Regions from separate parts of the Homo sapiens genome. Here region 2 is linked to region 1. Evidence: fine-mapped expression QTL. Tissue or cell type: whole blood. Region 1 holds a variant in brackets; the other region holds the start of a gene. All regions are shown on one strand. Distances are between the middles of the regions.

What was found. PIP is the estimated chance that this variant, and not a neighbour inherited with it, causes the effect.
Region 2: MBD6 starts here. The variant in region 1 is fine-mapped to the expression of MBD6 in whole blood (TOPMed, PIP above 0.99).

Annotation. Positions count from the first base shown.
Region 1 is chr12:57,572,752-57,575,370 of GRCh38, reverse strand. KIF5A (kinesin family member 5A) reads right to left here. Exons shown (of 29, transcript NM_004984.4): 16 at 99-287. Among named protein-coding and RNA genes, the nearest start is that of PIP4K2C, 17 kb to the left of the region's middle. The variant C/T (reference allele first, on the strand shown) is at 1,632.
Region 2 is chr12:57,521,348-57,523,969 of GRCh38, reverse strand. MBD6 (methyl-CpG binding domain protein 6) reads right to left here and starts at 1,146. Exons shown (of 13, transcript NM_052897.4): 1 at 959-1,146. RefSeq lists a silencer at 915-1,314 and enhancers at 1,575-1,714, 778-1,737, 1,835-1,904, 1,995-2,104, 1,738-2,622 and 1 more.

The DNA.
Region 1 (2,619 bases):
CTTTGACATAAAGGTGGGTGTTAGGAGTTTTAGCCATAACCCCAGAGTAGCCTTCTTTCTCCCATGGCATCTGAAGGTTCTCAAACTTAGGCACTCACCTGAGAGATGAGGAGCTGGCAGGATGAGAGCTCCCGCCCGGTCACTTCCATCTTGCGGTGACACTCCACCTGGAGGTTCTCCAGCTGCCGGCACCGCTTGACCACAGACTTGACTTCTGATTTGATTTTGCTGATGTAGAGTCGGGCCACAGTGAACTCCTCCTCGATGGCCCCACTGATCTCCACTGGCTAAGGTGATTAAAGGAGGAAGAGATGCTTCTTGGCTGCTGGGAAGCTTTATCTGTTCCCTCCCACCTTCTACCTACCCATACACACCCACATACGCAGGGACTCAAATGGGATGGGTATTTTCCAAACGACCTTTAGCAGCTCTCTATCAGCGGCATTTCACATTAAATTCCTCCGCCTGCATTTAAAAATCCAATTCTGGCTGGGCGCAGTAGCTCATGCCTTGTAATCTCAGCACTTTGGGAGGTCAAGGTGGGTGGATCACCTGAGGTCAGGAGTTCGAGACCAGCCTGACCAACATGGTGGTGAAACCCTGTCTCTACTAAAAATACAAAATTAGCCAAGCATCATGGCACATGCCTGTAATCCCAGCTACTCAAGAGGCTGAGGCAGGAAATTGCTTGAACCCAGGAGGCGGAGGTTGCAGTGAACCGAGATCACACCACTGGACTCCAGCCTGGGCGACAGAGTGAGACTCCATCTCAAAAAAAAAAAAAAAAAATCCAATTCTGGGCCGGGCTCGGTGGCTCACGCCTGTAATCCCAACACTTTGGGAGGCCGAGGTGGGTGGACTACGAGGTCAGGAGTTCGAGACCAGCCTGGCCAATATGGTGAAACCCTCTCTCTACTAAAAACATAAAAAATTAGCCAGGAGAGGTGGTGTGTGCCTGTAGTCCCAGCTACTCGGGAGGCTGAAGCAGAAGAATTGCTTGAACCTGGGAGGCGGAGGTTGCAGTGAGCTGAGATCACACCACTGCACTCCAGCCTGGGCAACAGAGCAAGACTCCATCTCAAAAAAAAAAAAAAATCCAATTCTGACAGTCCCCCACTTACAAATAAATCTTATAAAGCAACATGATTTTCTTTTGATCTCCTTGATCACCCAGATTATTCTCACATCCACAGATTTGCATATTTCATTCTGAACTCTGTGCCTATGCCCCACCTCTAACTCCTACTGCAAGCACTGCTCTGTTGCTGCTGCTTTTTTTTTTTTTTTTTGAGACAGAGTCTCCCTCTGTCACCCAGGCTGGAGTGCAGTGCCGCATCTCTGCTCACTGCAAGCTCCGCCTCCCAGGTTCACGCCATTCTCCTGCCTCAGCCTCCTGAGTAGCTGGGACTACAGGCGCCCGCCACCATGCCTGGCTAATTTTTTGTATTTTTTTAGTAGAGACAGGGTTTCACTGTGTTAGCCAGGATGGTCTCAATCTCCTGACCTCGCCTCGGCCTCCCAAATTTTTTTTTTTTTTTTTTTGAGACGGAGTTTCACTCTTGTTGCCCAGGCTGGAGTGCAATGGTGCAATCTCGGCTCACTGCAACCTCCGCCTCCAGGTTCAAGCGATT[C/T]CCCTGCCTCAGCCACGTGAGTAGCTGGGATTACAGGCATGAGCCACCACACCCGGCTAATTTTATATTTTTAGTAGACACGGAGTTTCTCCATGTTGAACAGGCTGGTCTCGAACTCCTGACCTCAGGTGATCCACCCGCCTCGTCCTCCCAAAGTGCTGGGATTACAGGCGTGAGCCACCATGTACAGCCTCTTTTTTTTTTTTTTTAAGACAAGGTCTGGCTCTGTCACCCAGGCTGGATTGCAGTAGCTCAATCATGTCTCACTGCAGCCTCAACCTCCCATACTCAGGTGATTCTCCCACCTCAGCCTGTCAAGTAGCTGGTACTATAGGTGTGTGCCACCACCCCCAGCTAATCGTTTGTATTTTTTGTAGAGATAGGGTTTCACTATGTCACCCAGGCTGGTCGTGAACTCCTGGGCTCAAGCGATCCGCCTGTCTCAGCCTCCCAAAATGTTGGGATTACAGGCATGAACCACCATGCCTGGCCTCCATTGCTTCTTTATTCAGCACCCGTTAGAATTTAGTTTTGTTTTGTTTTGTTTTTAAGGCAGAGTCTCACTCTATAACCCAGGCTAGAGTGCAGTGGTGTGATCTCAGTTCACTGCAACCTCTACCTCCCAGGTTGAAGCGATTCTCCTGCCTCAGTCTCCTGAGTAGCTGGAATTACAGGTGCACATCACCACGCCTGGCTAATTTTTGTATTTTTAGTAGAGACAGGGTTTCGCCATGTTGGCGAGGTCAGGTCTCGAACTCCTGACCTCAAGTGATCCGCCTGCCTCGGCCTCCCAAAGTGCTGGGATTACAGCGGTGAGCCACTGCGCCCAACCTAGAATGTATCTTTTCAATTGGGTCTATACAAGCCTCTACCTGTCTTCCTGGGTCTAGTTCAAAGGCATGTTTCCTGGCTCTCTGGCTGCCTTTCTCAGTATCTGTGAAGGCCTGGATGGCTCATCTTGCGTCTTCCACTAGTGCCCAGCCTGAAC
Region 2 (2,622 bases), 51 kb after region 1:
CAGCCCAGCACCCTCTCAAAAGAAAGATCCTTAACAATGTGAGGCAAGCACCTATAAAGATCTCGGGGATCTGCTGGCTTAGTCTACAACCATCCTTTCCAAGCCCAGTCCCTAGGGACCAGAGGGTCAGAACCTCAGCTCCCTGGGACCAAGAAAGTCTAGCCCAATTCTTAGGCATATGAAGGGCAAGGCCTCCCTCCATTCGGAGTAGAAGACTTCAACCAGGAGTATGGGCACATTCCCATAATGCTAGGCCACTAGGAAGTTTCCCAGAGTGTCTGGCTCCTGTTGTTCTCTACCCAGGAAGATGATATAAAAAGTACAGATTGCCCCACAGGTCACCAGGCAATTGCCCAACTGCCCGCTGGGGTGGTACCAGCAGAACTCCCCCCATGCCTGCTCCATCAGACAATCGCTGATATAGTTCATTCGGGTCTTAAGAGGTGAGGATCACAGCTCAGTCTTCTCCCAGGATCCTGGGAAGCTCCTGATTTTCCCTCAAGCCTACGGCAAAGGGATTCAGAACCTCCTATTCCACTGGCTTCCGATTATCTCCAAGAGAGCCTGTCCTCCGATAGAAGGGGAAGCCCCTCCAACCTGCAGGTATCCTCCCCAGCCTCACCATTGCTCCCACCCCACACTGGCGGCTTCCAAACTTTCCCTCTCACAACAAGGCGCCCTGTCACCCAGACTGCTTCCCTCAGCTTGAGGAGGAGGGGAAGGCGCACGAAGTAGGAAGGAACTTGGGGAGAGGGCGGGCGGAGGGTGGGCGAAGCACTGAGGGGAGGGCGGTGAGGAAGGCAGAAGTCTGGCAGTGAGAGGGAGAAGCGGCGGGGGCAGGTGAGGGCGGGGGAGTGGGGATGGGGCCGGGGAAAGGGGCCGAGAGGACGCGGAGGGGGCAGAGGGTAGGGACGGGAGGGGGAGGGGCAGGGTGGGGGGGGCCGGGCCCCGCACTCACCGCGGCCCATGGTTCGGCCGGCCCCGCCCTGCGCAGTCGCGGCCCAGAGGGTGAGTGGGAGGGGGTGGGAGGAGGGTCGGTGGAGCCCGAGCCTCCGGTACGGCCCCGGCCGGTCCTAGCAGGAAGCGCCGCTGCCGCCGCCGCGGATCACCGAGCGGCCTCCCGCGCATGCGCCATGGGGGCCAGGGGCAGCCCTGGGGATTCCGTTCCCAGAAGGCACTGCGCAGGCTGCTGCCGCTGCCGCCGCCGCCGTCGCTGCCGCAGCCGCCGCCGCAGGAGCCGCCGCCTCCGCCGCTGCCCGGACGGGAGAGGGGCGGGGCCGGGCCCCCGCCCAGCGGACAGCGACGAGCCAACTGGAGGGGCTGCAGTGCGCATGCGGGAGCGCGCCTACCCCTCCCCCACAACCCCCCATTAATCCCCAAGAGAACAAACACCCCACGCGGCCCCCCCGCCCTCCGCGGAAGGATCTGCGCCTCTTCCCAGGCCACTGGTGGCCAATCCCAGCCCTCCTCAGGGAGGGGCCCCTTCCAAAGCCACAGTCTGTTGCGGGAACCAGGAATGCCAGGTCCGGGAGGGGCCAGGCCCCGAAAGATGAAAGTCGCGACTTGCCCTGCCCCGCCCCAAAGGCTTCCCGGGTAGTGTGCTGGGACTTGACCCGCCTCCCCAGGTCAACATGTCACAACACGACCTCAGCCTGTCAAGTCACATGACCTCTGCCTGTCACTGACAACCTGGTCTGTCTTTAGGCCAGGGGAGACCATCTGGTCCACCCTCCACACTACCCCCATTTTCAGAGAGGAAATGGAGGTGTGGAGCAGCGGAGCAGCCTAACCAAAGACCTGTCATTGCCACACCACTCCAGTCACAACCGGCCTTGTGACAGTTTCTACTTAAACTCTGGCTGCCCCCATGAGGGTATGACAGGATATGTAACAGGCCACCACATGGCCTCTGTTTTCAAGGCACAAGAAAAATACTTTGCATTCTGGGTGGTGCGTTTTACTTTTGGTCAAGTTGCCTCCAAGTTCATGGTTCTCATTTTACCTTCACAACTTTTATCTTTAATTTACAAACAAGGACGGTAAGATCCCTTGGCAAGTGATGGGGAGTTGAGTCTAAAATCGCGGCTCCGGTCTCCCCAGTCCAGGGCAGTCCTGCGCTGAAGTGCACTCACACGTCCCGGGATGAGACTCCGCTGTAAATCTCGACCCGAACACCTAGGAGGCAGGCCTGTGCCGCGCTCCTCACACAGGGAGTCACAGGACTTGCTGTCTGGTACAGCAAGAGAGGGTCTTGGAGAAAGCCATAGGAGTACCGTGGGGGAAAATAGGTGGCCAAACAGAATCGGGTCCACTGGGCAAAATACATGACTTCTGGCAGGCTGAGGGCTTACCAACTACAAGGTAAAAGTCAAGGGCGCTGTTCTGAGAGAAGCGGAAAATGACTACCAAGGGATTCCAGTACCTCGGCCCCTTTTGGGAGATTTACGGGGCTAGAACAGGAGACCACCCCCGTTTTTTTGTTTGTTTGTTTTGTTTTTTGTTTTTGGTGAAACGTAGTCTCGCTCTGTCACCCAGGCTGGAGTGCAGTGGCGCGATCTCGGTCACTGCAACATCCGCCTCCAGGGTTCAAGCGATTCTTCTGCCTCTGCCTCCAGAGTAGCT